2 separate regions of the Homo sapiens genome follow, and region 2 is linked to region 1. Evidence: fine-mapped expression QTL. Tissue or cell type: sun-exposed skin. Region 1 holds a variant in brackets; the other region holds the start of a gene. All regions are shown on one strand. Distances are from middle to middle.

Region 1 (8,348 bases):
TACACCTAAAAATCAATAAGAGAGAGAACAATGAGTAAAAGGGGAAAAAATGGGTGTCTTAGTCTGTGTCATGCTGCTATCACAGTACACCAAGGATTGGGTAATTTATAAAGAACAGAAATTAATTTTCCTACAGTTCTGGAGGCTGGTAAGTCAAGATTAAAGGGCCGGCATCTGGCAAGGGTCTTCTTGCTGCATCACGACATGTTGGAAGGCATCACATGGTGGAAGGGCAAAGAGAGGGTGAGGTAGAGAGTAAAATACCCTTGAAAACAAACCCACTTCCATGATAATGGCACAAATTCATTCACTCTGCCCTCGTGGCCTAACCACCTCTCCTTAAGGCCCCACCTCTCAACACTGTTGCTTTGGGGATTAAATTTCCAACATATACTTTCTAGGGGACACATTCAAAGGTTAGCAATGGACAAAATGTTTCAACAAGTTGAAAGAGAAGATATCTAAATGGCCAATAAACATGTAAATGTTCCTTAATCATGTAAATTCAAATCACAATGAGATCATTCCATATTCTGAAAGTCTGACAGTGCCAAGTATTGGTGAGACCTTGAAGTCATAGGCACTCAGAACACTGCTGGTGGTAGAATCTCCATTCTTTGGAGGAGGATGTAACAGTATCCACTAAAGCTGAAGACAAGTACACTCATGAGCCTCCAATTCATCATAGCCCCTGCTACGGACTGAGTATATATGCACCACCCCAATTCATACGTTGAAATTCTAACCCCCAAGGTGATGGTATTTGGAGATGGGGCATGCAGCAGATGATTAGGTCATACGGGTGGACCTCTCAGGTGGAGTTAGTGACCTTAAAAAAAGAGACACAAAAGAGCTTGCTGCCTCTTTCTCTCACTCCACCATGTGTGGACACAATGAGAAGATGGCAGTCTACAACCTGGAAGCGAGCCCTCACCGAGAACCCAACTATCCTGGCACCTTGATCTCAGACTTACAGCCTCCAGAACTGTGAAAAATAAGTGCTTGTTGTTTAAGCCATCCAGTGTGTGGTATTATTATTTTTTATTATCTCAGCCCACACTGACTAAGACAGCTCTCAAATGGAAACAACAGAAATGTCCACCAACAGTAGGATGGACTAAAAAATGTATATTCATATAATGGATTTTATGCTGCAGCAAAAATGAATTGCAAATGCCTACAGCAACATGGTTAAATTTTTTTTTTTAGACAGAGTCTCCCTCTGTCGCCCAGGATGGAGTGCAGTGGCGTGCTCTCGGCTCACTGCAACCTCCGCCTCCCAGGTTCAAGCGATTCTCCTGCATCAGCTTCCTGAGTAGCTGGGACTACAGGCACCCGTCATCATGTCCGGCTAATTTTTTGTATTTTTAGTAGAGATGGGTTTTCACCGTGTTAGCCAGGATGGTCGCTATCTCCTGACCTTGTGATCCTCCCGCCTCGGCCTCCCAAAGTGCTGGGATTACAGGCGTGAGCCACCGCGCCCAGCCTGGCCAAATCTTAAAAGCATAATCTTGAGAGAAAGAAGCCAGATCTCAAACCATGCAAACACTGCACGATTCAATTTCTATACCCTGCGAAGACTTGCGGATGCGACCTTATCATTTAGGGACGCTTGCTTATGTGGTCAACTCTAAAGCAACGGAAGGAAGGAAGTGTTGACTGGGAATGCCAGGTGGCAGAGATCTGGGGAAGGGCACGGGGATGGAGGAGGTGGGATACAGATGGATGCAAGTGGTGGCTACACAGGTGTTTGCTTTACAACAACTTGCTAAGTTGAACATTTGCATTTTAAACATTTTTCTGGATGTATGTTATATTTCACAATAAGGAGGAAGACTAGAGAGAAAGGAGGAGAGAAATCAGAGCACTTACAAAACTTTCAGGTCGTTTTGCTGAAAAAGGAAGGTTGCTGGAAGGGGAAGTGAAGTTGAGAATTTTTTTTCCTGGAGCTCTTGCACTGGAAAGGGGGCTCCTTCCTGACCGCCTCTCTCTGCTCCCTGTTTTCCTATCTAGACATGGCCTCTGCCCTCCGTAGAAGGTTCCATACCAGCCAACCGGGCCACACCTTCTCCTATACCTGGTCATTTTCTTTCTCTGTCTCCTTCCCTCCCTCCCTCCCTCCCTTTTCTTGATTCCTCCCTTTTCTTGCTTTCTTTCTTGTTCTCTCTTTCTTTCCTTTTTTTTTTTTTTAAAATAAGGTCTTACTCCGTTGCCCAGGCTGGAGTGCAGTGGTGTGATCACCGCTCACTGGAGCCTCAGTCTCCTGGGCTCAAGATATCCCCCTGCCTCAGCTTCCTGAGTAGCTGGGACTATAGGCATGCACCACCACACCCAGCTAACTTTTAATTTTTTTTGTAGAGATGGGGCCTTGCTTTGTTGCCCAGGCTAGTCTTGAACTCCTGGACTCAAGCGATCCTCTTGCCTTAACTTCCCAAAGTGCTGGCATTACAGGCATGAGCCACTGCACCTGGCCTGGTCATTTCCATTTGAAGCTGGATATTGTGAATTTTACCATGCTGGATGCTGGATATTTTTGTATTATTATAAATAATCTTAGGCTGGGTGCGGTAGCTCATGCCTGTAATCCCAACACTTTGGGAGGCCGAGGCAGGCGGATAACTTGAGGCCAGGAGTTCAAGACCAGCCTGGCCAACATGGTGAAACCCCATCTCTACTAAAAATACAAAAATTAGCTGGAATGGTGGCACATGCCTGATTCCAGCGCCCACTGCACTCCAGCCTGGGCGACAGAGCGAGACTCTGCCTCAAAACAAAGCAGAAAAATAAACACATAAATAATCTTGAGCTTTTTTTCTGAGATACAATGAAGCTACTGAGAAACTGTTTGATCTTGTTGGGTCTTGCTTTTATGATTTGTTAGGTGGGCGTGGAGCAGTGCTTAGTCCAGGGCTGAGTTTAGGCTACCCACTGAGTACTGTGCCCAATGGCCAGTGAATCAGGAGTTATGCGTTCTGGCTGGTGGGAGCCCCCTGGGAGCTCCAGCTGCTGTTCTTTACTTCCATGCGGTGGCTTTTCCCTGGCCCCAGGCAGTTTCTCCACACACATGAGGTGAATAACCGAGGAGTCCCTTTGCAGATGTCCAGGGCTGTGTTTTGCCAGCTCTCTCTGTTTAGGTCCTCTGTCCTAAAAACCCTAGCCACCTTGGTCTCCCTGGGCTGTCAGCTGTGTTCCCTTCTCTCAGGGAGTCCACTCTCTTCCACCAGGGTCCCCCCCTTCCCCAGTCCCTGTGTGCTCTGCACCCTGTACATGCGATCAGGGCAGTGAGCCAGGACTGTTGAAGAACTCACCTGTTTCCCACCTCCCGTTCTACTGAAGGCTATGGGCTAGGATGCCCGTCCAGCCTGTGGGCTCAGACTATGGCACCTTTGTGGGCCCCAGGGAATGTCATCTCAAAGATACCTCTGCCCTGAGAGCCCAGCCCTGTGAGGTCTCCCTGAGCCCTTGGTCTGGAAGCAGTGGTGCCCCTGTGTGGGCTGACACTGACTGGCCACTCAGGCTCCATGCAAGGGACATCAGTCCCACGCCAGTCCCTGGCAGCCGAGGCCACAGCTGCCCCACAGCCGCTCTTGCCCCTCCTGCAAAAGGTGTGGTTTGCCTAGCTCAGGGTCTTATCTGCCCTCGCCATGTGAAGAATCTTCTGGCCCCAGACCACCAGGAGACACCACCCCTCACATTTCTTTTTTGAGCACCTGCCAGATGTAGGAAATCTTTTTAGAACTAAGAGAAGATGGAGAGAGAACAGCCAAGTCCTACCCCAGAGAGATTCCCACCTAGTGGAGGGTAAGAGGCCTGCCATCATTGCCACTGGTGGTACAATGCTGGTGCCAAGACTGTGTGCCAGGCTCGTTGCTTCGCGTCCGTTACTTCATCTCAGCAGACAACTCTCAATATCCCCATTCTACGGATGGGGAAATGAGGCTCAGAGAGGTAAGTGACTTGCTCAGGTTCACACAGCTGCACACAGCTGGACATACAGCTGCCCACACAGTAAAATGCAGGATCAGTGGCAGCAGGAGAGAGACTTGCCAGTTGGAGAGCCAGGAAGGTGCACAGAGGAGGTGGCATTGAGCTGGCTCTGGGGATGGGCAGGCCTTTTATAGAGGACTGGGAAGAAGGGCCGGGAACCAACAGTACCCCCCAAGGGAGGTTCGAATCAGGTGCTTGCCCCCAGTTGAGCCAGAGTTGGGGTGTGGAAAGGCTTGGAAAGCAGGAGAGGCTGTGGATGGAGGTGGGAGAGGCTTGGAACTGGGTCTTTGCTATCTCAGGGGCGTGGAAGGGACTTTTGAGTTTGAGAATGACGTGTCTGGAGCTCCCTGGTTCCAC[G/A]GGGCTGGACCTGCTAGGGCCTGAAGCGGGTTAAGAGCAGAAATCAAAAACAGGTTTGTTTGTGAGTCAGTAGCTGGGAAAATACTGGGAAGCAGGCTTCTTGGAGCTCCCCTTCATCCTCAGCCCTGTGGATTGGGCAGCAGCCCACGCCTCCCTGCCCCAGCCACAGCCCCCCGTCAATGCCGGCGCGCAGCAGCTTTTGCTCATCCTGCCCTGGTTCCAACCCCAAGGCCATGGGGCAGCCCACTGGGCGCCTTCCTGCATGGGTGTCCCCCTTTGCTGCTGTGTCTAGACTGCAGACACAAGTGCTGGCGGGGGCCGGGGGACTGGCCAAAACTAGGGCTGAAATCATGTTCAAAACCACAGTCAAGGCGGACTTGTCAGAAATATTCCTTTCCTTGAGCCGTCGCAGCTCAGCCTCCTTGAATCACCCTGGCCACTTCCTTCCTGTGTATATCTTATGCACGCTAAGGGACGGGGCGGGTGCAACGTGTGTGTTTTTACTTCTTTTAAGTTTTGTCTATGTTTTGTCCTTTCAATGTGTTGTAGGCTGTGGGGGCGGGGCTGTTCCGAGGGGCCTTTGTCACAGTAAGGGACACTGGGGACAGCTCGGGCTTTCTCTTCAAGCTGAAAACCTTTGGTTGTGAGAATGACTAGGAGAAGGGTCTCGCTAGGGTCATGCTTAGGACCCTTCGCAGGTGGTGTGTTTAATCTCAAAACGGCCTCAAGAGGCTCTCGATCTTTTACAGGTGACAAAGAAGACAAGGAAGACAAGGAAGGTGATCCGGGAGGCTGGAGAGCTTGTCAAGGTCACAGACCCACGGTTTTCCGCCCCCTAGGGTCCAAGCTCTTTCCTGGACATCTGCAGGCAATGTCGACACGCCCTCCAGTGTCTGTGGCGGGCAAAGGATGTGTCTCCACCCCCAGACCTTCCGATCCTGTGCTGAAAGTGTCCCTCAGCCTGTTTCCTGAGAAGCCCAGGGGCTTTTGGCTTGTTACTTTTTCTTTCTCTTGAAGTAAACAGAATAAAAGAGAGTTGCTCAGACGTCTTTGGCTGTGACCCACAGGAGATGATGCAATCTCCACGGCACCCCCACATGCATGTGTATGCACAGGCGTGTACAGATATCTAAAACTGGCACCAATTTCACAAAAACACTCACCCTTATGCGAGACACATTCACCCTACACTCATCCCCCATCTCTACAGAAAATTAAAGTATACATTCATAGTTGCTGTATTCATGCATGTACAGATGTATGTACATTTATTCATGTATGTGTATAACTTATGCCATTTTCATGAAACACTCACCCTACGTGTGATACACTCCTATTTTCTAGGAATCGCCGCCCACTGAGCTTATGTCCAAACCTTAGTGGATCATAGTCTAAGTTTGGCAAACACTGAGCCGGGAGGAGTCATGTCTGCAGGGCCCCAGGAGTCCCTTAATTTGGGTCCTGATCACTCTGCTCCACCCAGTGGAGCAGGCACATGCACTTGGCCCATAAGGAAGGAAAGGAGGGCGGGGGAAAAAGGGAGGGAGGGAGGGAGGGAGGGAAGGAGGGAGCACCTCCACCATCGTAGGCAGGACCTGTGAGAGCTGAACAGGGCCAGGCAGCTAGGCACCACTCTGGGACTCTGGGGTTTCTTAGGGGATGACTTGTTTCTGGGGTCCCAGTAGGAGGAACTCAGGGTGACGCCTCCGAGGATGTGAGTGCATGTGGCAGCCGGGCCCCTCAGCCCCTCTGTGTCCTGGTATCCTCTAAATGCAGATGATGGTGAGAATCCATGCCCAGCCCGTGGCTCGGCCCATCTCTGGGAGAGCGTGTTTACCACAGCACTTGGTGTGGTAGGAGGTGAGCAGGGTGGAAGTGCTTTGCATTCACGTGGGACTTCTGGCTCTCAGTTCATCCCACCCCCAGGGCCCGGCATGAGTGAGGCAAGGGTGGGTGGGAGGGTGCAGGATGTGGGAATGCCATGTGCTGTGCACTGCTCACTTCACCCCTCGCTCGCCCCAGTTGGGGTCCCAGACCAGGAAGCTCCATTCACAGAGGTGTGGCCTGGGGCTACTGCACTGCCCAGCAGGTTGTGGGGTCCCTTTACTCTATGCTGTGTGACAATGTTACCTTCCTGGAAAGAACCCGACCAGCCCCCTTTTGCTAGTCATTACCACAGATAGGAGAGAGAACTAAATATCTAGCCAGCCATCCTCTCGGAGCTCCGGAGCTCAGGTCACCAGGCTTCAGGGACTCGCTGCCATCCTCACAGGCTTAGATCCCTGCTGCAGGGTCAGCTAGGTAACCCCTGAGGGTGGGGTGTTCAAAGTTCAGGCTGCCCCCCAGACGTGTGGAATGCCAGCCCTGACTGCCAGGGCGATCTGAGGTGGACTGACCATCCCCTGGACACTTTCATGAAGTGTGGGCACGGGCGCGACAAGTGGCCATTTATCATCCTTCCCTGCAAAGACTGGGCCAGGTTAGAGATGGACCCCAGCAGTTTCATACCCACCAAGGGCACTGGGAGCTTCCACATAGTCACTGCCAGTAGTGGCTGCTGGCTGGGGAGAGGATCTTGGAATGCTGGTCACTGGAGGCCCTCACAGGTGACTGGGAATGTGGAGGAGCAGCAGGGTGCCTCTTCTCTGCCATGCCTTATGTTGGGGTTTGCTCTGGTTCCCCTCGCAGCCACTTACAGCTCCCCCATTGATGATGGGGCACTGCCAGCCCAAGGCCTGCCTCAAAGTCTAAATATCTGTGGGGTGGGGTGCAGGGAGGCGTGCACCCCAGAAAGCAATCCTGGGATCTCCCTTTCTACCTTAACCTTTCTTCCCACTCGGGGGCTTCCTCCCATGAGTGTTGTCAGGTCTTAGCAAATAAAAATACAGGATACCCAGTTATATTTGAATTTCAAATAAAAATTTGAGTAAGAGTTTAGTATAAGCACATCCCAAATGTTGCATGGATGTTCTGCATTTTATCTGGCAGCTGTACCTGCTAGACCTTGGGCTCTGTGGTCGGGTCTTTGGACATGACATCTGCACGGGCTGGGGGCTGAGGCTGCTGGCCAGGGCGAGCCAGGGCAGGCCACCAGGCTGCAGAACCCACATGCAGAGAATGGATGTGAGGAGAAGGGGCCAGAGGAAACAGGCCCTGCAGGTGCAGGAGAGAGAAGCTGCACACGCTCCCAAGGACCCGAGAGCACTCATGTGGGTGGGCCGTGGTCTCCTGTGGCCTGCTAGGAAATCCCCCTCTGCCTGAGCTCACTTGAGAAGGTCTCTGTTTCCCAAACCCTGTCCCCCATTGCACCCAACCCTGCAGTGAGTCACGAGGAGCTCTCCCATGAGGGGCAGAGGAGGCTCACTCAGTGACCCCTGTGCCACCCCACGTCAGAGGAGATGGGGCTCTCTAGTGGTCCTAGGAGCACCTCATTTCTGTCACATCCCCACCCCTGGGCCCACAGGACATGAGCTTGAAGGGAAATGGGAAGACTGGGCATGAGAGGGAAGGGCCAGGATAGACACACCCCCAGCAGAAGGGCCTGTGTCTTCCTGCTCCCACACAGAGGCCGGGTAACTTGCTTTTTTTACTAACAGGTTGGCCTTAGGGGAAAAGGGGACCTCACCAAAGGAGTGCTACTAGTGGGTCAGCCTAGCTTAGGAGAATTCTGTGTTGGGCTTTGCACCAAAGACCAATTAGTAATTGGAATTTTTCATTTATAACTGAGGATATGGCTCAAGCTAGCTTAAACAGAGAGAGGACACGTATCGGCTGTGTAATGGGTCATAGCTTCAGGCACAGTTGGTTCTAGAAGCTCAAGTTGGATCTGTATTCTCTCTCTCTTTCTCTCTCTCCACAATTCTATTCTGTTTCCCCCCTTTTTAGGCTTCTTCCTCAGACCAGCTCTCCCAGCAGCAAGCTGATCATCAATAACTCCAAGGTCAGAGAAGCTAGAGCTTCCAGAGCGGAGAGCTCAAGAAAGTCCCCATGGTCTTTCTGACTCC
Region 2 (8,000 bases), 440 kb after region 1:
TGCCCAGTCATAGCACTGGGCTAGTTCTCTAGTAGGGCATCTGTGAAACTTCTTTCCTTTTAAAGTGTGATGTTCCCTTTCGCATGGGGCCTCCATGAGGAACCTCAGTAGGAGAGAGGAGTCTTTGGTCTTCAGTAACACACCCAGATGCTGCAATGACCATCTAAGCATGGGAAACACCCATCCCAACTCACCAAAATAGCCCTGGAGCACAAGCTGGCCTCTCTGAGTTCAGTCCCTGCGAGGAAAAGTCTCCCAGGGAACATGTGGTTGAATAACCTGGCACACACTTAAAATCAGATAAAGCACATTTTAAGTGAAAAAGCACAGTTGCTTTTTCTTGTTTTCATTTTATAGGGAAAAATAAAAGCACAGTAACGAAACGTTTTTCATCAGAGAAATTTTGAGGCCAAGAGCCCTTCCCATCTCATTTAGGCACGTCATGGAAATAAATGTGGCACCATCAGAAGGTCAGAGGCCATGACTTGCACACAGCTTGCTCAGAGCAAAGTGCCCCTTCCCTCCTCCACCAGGCTTGGGGGCCACAGGAATTACTTCCTAAGTGGACATCCGCCACCTATAATTCAGTGCAAGGGGTCAAATAGGCCCCTCTGGGAAGTACTACCACACAGGGTCCCAGGGCCTAAGTCAATCGGGAGTCAAAGCCAGGAGCAAACATCAAGGGTGTGCAGGAGAGGATTTCCACGGGGTTGCCCTGGCTGGCACATTCACGCCATGACCAGGACACCAGCCTGTAGTTCACTGAAGTCAACTTTCTCCTCTCCAAACTAACACTCACTTCCGCAGTCTGAGAAGGCACTCAATCCTGAGACTCAAAGTGTGCTAAGAGCCACCTTCCAAAGACATGGAGCCACTGAAGCAATCTCTGCTAGGGAGGCCTACATTCCAGACTCCACAACCTCTGGTCATTCAAGTATGTGCCCCCAACCCTTCCTTAAGTTTCCATCTCTTGGAAGACAGGCATGCGGGAGCGGAGGGGGAGGGGCGGGGGGCGGGGGCGGAGCACACCGGCGCACACACATGCACCCACCTCAACTTGGAGATCCACTCCCAAGGTGGCTCTGACACAGGCCCGCCAAGCCGCGTTTAGCACGCCCCCTGCTGGCCCACAAGAGCTAATTCAACCTTTCTTCCGTGGGCCTAAGGCATGAATAAATGACCTTAATATCCCAAAGGGAACAGAAAGAAAATCAGGGCAATTTTTACTTCTTAGAAACGGAAGATGTGACAGTGATCTCTTTTGGGAAATCACTGACAACTCCCAAATTTAAGCACTCTAAACATACAAGCGGGATGAAGAGGCTTTAAAGCGGTTGTTTTAAAATGTTTTGGGGAAATAAGTGACCCATACCTAAAGATTTAGTGGAAACACTTCCGTTTGAAGTTTTACTAGTACTACAGCGAGTTAAACCATAAACGTGGTGAATATTTTCACGAGTCTACAGGTGAAAACAAAAAGATGGATACGGGGCCAGATTGATTTCACAGACTCCATTTTCAAAGAGTTTGCAATGCAGACCCTGAAAAACCAATCTTCATACTATTGAGGACATGTTGTAAAGAAGAATCTCTGCCACAACTCAAGAGTTAAGTTCTACAGCAACTACACACAGCGGGAGCAGTGTCATCCAAAAGCAGCTCACTTGGAGCCAGTTTCTCATCTCACTTAGGCACACCATTGGGAATAAATGCGGCACCATCAGGAGGTCAGAGGCCAAGAATTACACACACTTGCTCAGAGAAAGGTGTCCCCTCTCCTTCTCCACCAAGCTTGGGGGCCTCAGGAGTTACTTTCTAAGGGAAAACCTGCCATCTATGATCCAGGCCCAAGTGAGACCCGCACGTGGCAATACTTCGTAAAGCGGCGATTTCCACCCATTATCAGCCTGAACACTAAAGGCCTAAGTAACCACTGTTTTCCCATTCTTTTCACACCAATACAGGGTTCAAGAGATTGAAGTTCCTAACCAGGTCCCAACTTTTGAGTGGCATATGGTATTAAATTCCTTACAGATCCAATAAAATCACACTAACAATTTAAGGCATGCTTATTTTAACCAATTAGGAGGTGTCATTAATTATTAAATACAAAAATGTCAATACTTTTGTCCCTTATTGGATATCCTTTCGATATGATAGGCTTGAGTAGATACTCAGATTGCCTTGGGAACTTGCTTAGTTTTGTTCCCATAAGAATTGGTACTAATGGCACACTCACAATAAAATAATGGAGTGTTGATCCCATTTAGTGGGGAATGTTTATCCAGAACTGAGTGTGCCGTGCAGATCTACCTCTGTTCTCGTGAACCCTCTTTGGGTCTTGAAGAGGCCTTTGAAGCTGGTGGGACACACGGCTGCTGGGAGGACCCTAGTGAACCTGCCTCCCCGCCTTCGCCCAGGGCAGGCTTCTCCGGGCACACCCTGGAGGAGGAGGAGGAGGATGGTGAAGGACACCTGCAGATTTTCCTGAAGCAATTAAGACCTGTAAAGATTTAGGCCCCGCTGTCAACCTTTTCCTGGACACATTATCTGCCTCATCATATTTTTAAAAATTGTTCCTCTTACAGCCCACTTCCATTTACAAAGGTATCACCTGGCGGTAACCATGTGCATGTCATACATGACTTTCCCCTGGATCCTTGTGCTGTGGATGAAGCGTTTCCCTGATCGGGGTCTCACAAGTTTCCCTTCAGCTACTCTTAAATCTATACATTCTCAAGCCAATAGACAGAAATAAAAGTCATTTGCACTTGTGTGAGGTAGCTGAGTTTACAGAGCAGAGGCAAATCCATTTTATTACAGAGATTCTCAAAGGGCTGCAATAGCTTCACCGGGAGGGAGGAGGGTACACTTGAGCGGTTGTGTCCAATGAAGGAAAGTTTTAGTTAATGATGACATCACTGACATCTCCCAAATTTAAAGGAGCACTTAAAGCACCGCAGATGCAATTTTTTCCCCTCCAGTGAGGAGATACTAGGGAAGGCCTCTGGGTTCACAGCCAAATTGCCTTAATGGTTTGCCTGCTGTCCAGCGAGACCCAGCAGAGCGAGCGGGACGGCGGTGCGCCGGGCCGCGGGGACCCACGCAGTCACAGCTCCGGTGCCCGGCGAGCGGCCTCGCGCGCGGCTCGGGGCCGGGCCCTGCCCGGCCGTCTGCAAGAGCCGCGGGACCCCCGACGCGCGCGCACGGACCGAGGGGTCGGTCGCCCCACGCCTGGCATCACGTTCCAGTGCGGACAGCCAAAGGGCTGAGCGGAGGCAGCAGCCCCGACCCAGCGGTAGCGCCGCGCCCTGCCCGAGAGAGGCGCGCCACGCCGGGCCGGAGCCGGTGGCCCGGGAGCCCGCGGGGTCCGGAGCGGAGCCCGCAATGCAGACGCGCCGGCGAGCCCAGCCGGGGCCCGCGCCCCCCGCGTCCCCGCGCCCCGGCCCCGCGGTCGCCCGGCCTCAACGCCCACCTGCCTCGCCACGGAGCTCGGGAAGGAGACGGCGCCGGCCCCGCGCCCGGAGAGCGCACCTGCCTGGTCCGCGGGCCCGGCCCCGCCGCCCGCCGGCAGCACCGCGGCCAGCGCCGTCTTACCTGCCGCGCCGCGCCGCTCCGCTCCGCCAGCCCGCAGCGCCGCAGTCGCCGCTACCCGACTTCCATTTTCTCTCGCTTTAAAGGAAAACCAGATCAGCTGTTTTGCTCCCGCTCGGGCTCCGCGGCCCCCTCCCCAGCTGCCGCTCGCGGTCCCGGTGGCCTCTCCTCCCCCGCCTCCTCCCGCGCTCCGCTCCGCCCCTCGCGCCCCTCCGCTCCGCCCGCGGCCGCGCACAACGCCCGCCTCCCGGCTCCGCCTGCTGCCTCCGGGCGCGCGCCCTCCTCTGACGTCACCGGTCGCGTTCGCGCCCCGCCCCCGCCCCGCGCGGACGTGCGCGCGCCGCGCCTGTGCCCCGCCCCCGCCCCTCCGGGGCCGGGCACGGAGAGCGCGTGCTCGCGGCCGCGAGCCGAGGAGGGGACGTACAGCGCCCGCGCGCCCGCGAGCCCGCTCCGGCTCTCCCATGCTTGCCCCTCGGGGTGCTCCTTCTGCGCTCTCCGCCTGGACTGCAGGAAAAGGCTGCTTAAACAGCCTGCCTTTTCCTGCTGCCTGACTCGCGCCATCTGCGGCCACCTGTCTCGTTTCTTCCCCCTGGCTGGCGCACCCTTCCTTCCTAAACATCCCAAACTTTCTCCCACCCAGGCTGTCCAGGCTGCAGTTTCTACGCCCTGCGCTGGGGCCTGTGCATCACGCCTAATCCAAAGCTGGTCCTTTTACCTCCCAAAAAGGTTCTCTGACCTTTTCCCATTTTTTGCCTTCCTCTAAAGACTTTTTCACGCCACCCCTTCAGATGGTTCCCCTCCCTGATGGCAAGACCTGCTCGCTGCTCTGGGCCCTTCTCACGTCACCCTGTAGATGTAGTCACGCTTCCTTATCCCAAACAGGACGTTATATTGCAGATGACCCATACCATCCTGGTGTACTTCTAAACAATCATTATTTTACTTTTAGTTTAGGACTTTTTGCTTGACTTTAAACATTGTATATGTTTAATAGTGTTTAATAATTTATTTGACTTTTAAAATTGATATTCAGTAAAATTGGTTATTTGATATATAATCCTGTGATCTTGAACCCTTGTTTGGATTCATGTAACCACTAGCGCAATAAAGAGCTCCCTAGTTCTGCCCTTTTATAACAGCGCCCCCGCCAACCCTAACTTTTGGTAACCACTGATAGGTTCTCCATTGCTACGGTTTTGTCTTTGTGAGTGTGTCGTATACATGGAATTACGCAATATGTAACATTTTGAAACTGACTTTATTCCCTCATCATTATACCTTGGAGATTCATCCATGTTATTGTGTATAGTAATAGTCCTTTTTATTGTTGAGGGGAGTCTCATTATTTGTACCACATTTTGTTTAGTCACCCACTGGAGAATATTTGCGTGGTTTCCAGTTTTTGGCGACTGTGAATAAACATTCTATAAACATTTGCATGCAGCGTTTTGTACGGACAAATTTTTTAAATTAGTTGACTAAATATCTAGGAGTGCAATTGCTAGATCTTATGGTAAATTTGTTTAACTTTATAAGAACCAAACAGTTTTCTAGAGTGGCTATAGCATTTTTATAACTGTCAGCAAATATGAATCCCTTTCCTTCATCCTCACCAGCACTTGATATTGGCTATCTTTATCTATCTATCTGTCCATCCATCCATCCATCCGTCTATCATCTATAATTTTAGACATTCTAGTAGGCATATAGTGCTATATCGTTGTTAATTTTCAATTTTCTACTGAAAAATTATGTGGAGCAACTTTTCATATGCACCTGTATATCTTCTTTGGTGAGATGTTTGTTCACATCTTTTGCCCATTAAAAAAAAAAGGTTGTTTTCTTATGGTTGAGTTTTAAGAGTTCTTTGTGTATTTTGGATAGAAGTACTTTATCTGATACGTGTTTTGCAGGTATTTTCTTCCAGTGGAAGCTTGTCTTTTCATTCTCTTAACAGTCCTGTCCTGAATTTAGGGGAAGTATCCAGTTTCTTACCACTAAATATGATGTTAGCAGTAGGATTTTTTTAGTTCTTCTTTATCAAGATTAGGAAGTTCTCTCTATTCCTAGTTTGCAGAGTTTTTATCATGAATGAATGTTGGATTTTGCCAAATTCGTTTTCTGCATCTATTGATACGGTCATGTGATTTTATTTTCTTTAGCTTGTTGATATGATGGGTTACATTGATTTTCAATTGATTTTCAAGGAACCGGTCTTGCATACTTGGGTCAAATTCTACTTGGGCATGGTATATAATTGTTTTTATACACCATTGTATTCAATATGCTAATATTTTGTTGAAGACTTTTGCATCTATGTTCATGAGAAATATTTGGCTATAGTTTTCTTTTTTGTAATGTCTTTAATTTATTTTGGTATGCCGGTAATGCTGGCCTCATAAAATGAGTTAAGAAGTAATATTTACTTGTATTTTCTGTAAGAAATTGTAAAGAACCTATATCAATTCTTCCATAAATGTTTGGTAAAATTCCCTGGTGAAACCATCTGAATCTGGTGATTTTTTTGAGACTTCATTAATTATTGATTCTTTGTGGATACAGAGCTATTAGGTGATCTGTTTGCTTTTCTGTAAAATGTAGTTGTATCATTCAAGGAATCGGTCCTTTTTATCTAATATTCAAACTTGTGGGTGTAAAGTTGTTCATCATAAACCTTTATTATTCTTTTAACATCTATGAAATTAGTAGAGATGACGCCTCTTTCATTTTTTGATATTGGCAAACTATGCCCAATGTCTTTTTTTCTTGGTTAACCTGGACAGGTTTATTAATTTTAATCATCTTTTCAGCTTTTTCTTTGTTTTGTTGATTTTTTTCTATTGTTTTCTATTTTCAATTTCATTCTCTAATTTTTATTATTCCTCTTTGTTCTGCTTGTTTTAGGCTTAAATTGCTCTTCTTTCTCTATTATCCAAGGTGACAATTTAGGTTGTTGATTTTAGATTTTTCTTCTTTTCAAATGTATACATTTACTGCTATAAATATCCCCGCTTTTACTGCATCCCACAAATTTAGAAAAGTTGTACTTTAATTTTTATTTAGATCAATGTTTTTAGTTATTCTTGAGATTCCTCTTTGACCCAAATGTTTTTTAAAAATGTGTTGTTTAGTTTCCAATAATTTGGGACTTTCCAGCTATCATTCTGTTCTTGATTTCTAGGTTACTTCCATTGTGGTATGAAGACATACTTTGTTTAATTTCTATTTTTCTTTAATTTGATAAGGTGTGTTTTATAGATCAGAATGTGGCCAATGTTGGTGATTATTCCATGCCAGCTTGAGAAGAATGTGTATTGTGCTATTGCTAGATCTACAAATATCAATTAAATAAAGTTGATAATGCTGTTTAGGTCAATTATATCCTCACCGATTTTTTGCCTATCTGATCTTATCAATCATGGATAGAGAAATGTTGAAGTATCCTATGATAGTGGATTGGACCATTTTTTCTTTCAGGTTTATCATTTTTTCCTCACTTATTTTGACATTTTATTCTTAGGCACATGCATATTTAGGGTTATTATGTATTCTTGGAGAATTAGCCCCTTTATGATTATGAGTTTCTTACCTATCCCTCCCCTCACATCCCTGATAATTTTCCTTTTTCTCAAGTCCCTTTTATCTGAAATTAATGCAGCTACTCCAGTTTTCTTTTGATCAGGGTTAACATGGTATATCTTTCTTCATCCCTTTACTTTTAACCAAACAGATACTTTATATTTAATGTCAACAAGATATAGTGGGGTCTTGTTTTGTTATCTACTCTAGCAATCTGTGTCTTTTAATTGGTGTATTTAGACCATTCACATTTAACACAATTGTTGATCTATTTGGATGAATATCAATCATATTTGTAACTGTTTCCTACTGGTTGCCAGTGGCGGCTTTTTCTGCCTTCTCCGATTTTAATTGAGCATTTTGTGTGGTTCTATTTTATCTTCTCTTAAAGAGTATCAATTATACTTTTTAAAGAATTTTTTAGTGGCCATTCTAGAGTTTCTTTTTTCTTTGCTTTGCTTTTTTTTTAAGACAAAGTCTGGCTCTATTGCCTAGGCTGGAGTGCGGTGGTGCCATCTCGGCTCACTGCATCCTCTGCCTCCTGGGTTCAAGCCATCCTCCCAGCTTAGCCCCCTGAGTAGCTTACCATGCCCAGCTAATCTTTGCAATTTTTGTAGAGACAGGATTTCACCATGTTGTCCAGGCTGGTCTCAAGCTCGTTAGCTCAAGCAATCTGCCTGCCTTGGCCTCCCAAAGTGCTGGGATTACAGGTCTGAGCCATCATGTCCAGCCTAGAGTTTCTAATATAGATTTTCTTCTTTTACTAATGTGTGTTCACCTTCAAATCATGGTATTGTTTCACATGTAACGTAGATATCTTATAAGAG

Evidence for each region. PIP is the estimated chance that this variant, and not a neighbour inherited with it, causes the effect.
Region 2: it holds the start of OTUD7A, and the variant in region 1 is fine-mapped to the expression of OTUD7A in sun-exposed skin (GTEx, PIP above 0.99).

The regions. Positions count from the first base shown.
Region 1 is chr15:31,430,277-31,438,624 of GRCh38, forward strand. It overlaps a transcript of KLF13 not described here. Among named protein-coding and RNA genes, the nearest start is that of KLF13, 110 kb to the left of the region's middle. RefSeq lists an enhancer at 4,572-5,091. The variant G/A (reference allele first, on the strand shown) is at 4,345.
Region 2 is chr15:31,866,910-31,874,909 of GRCh38, forward strand. It overlaps OTUD7A (OTU deubiquitinase 7A), which reads right to left and starts at 3,764. Exons shown (of 13, transcript NM_001382637.1): 1 at 3,598-3,764. RefSeq lists silencers at 937-1,231, 3,727-3,796.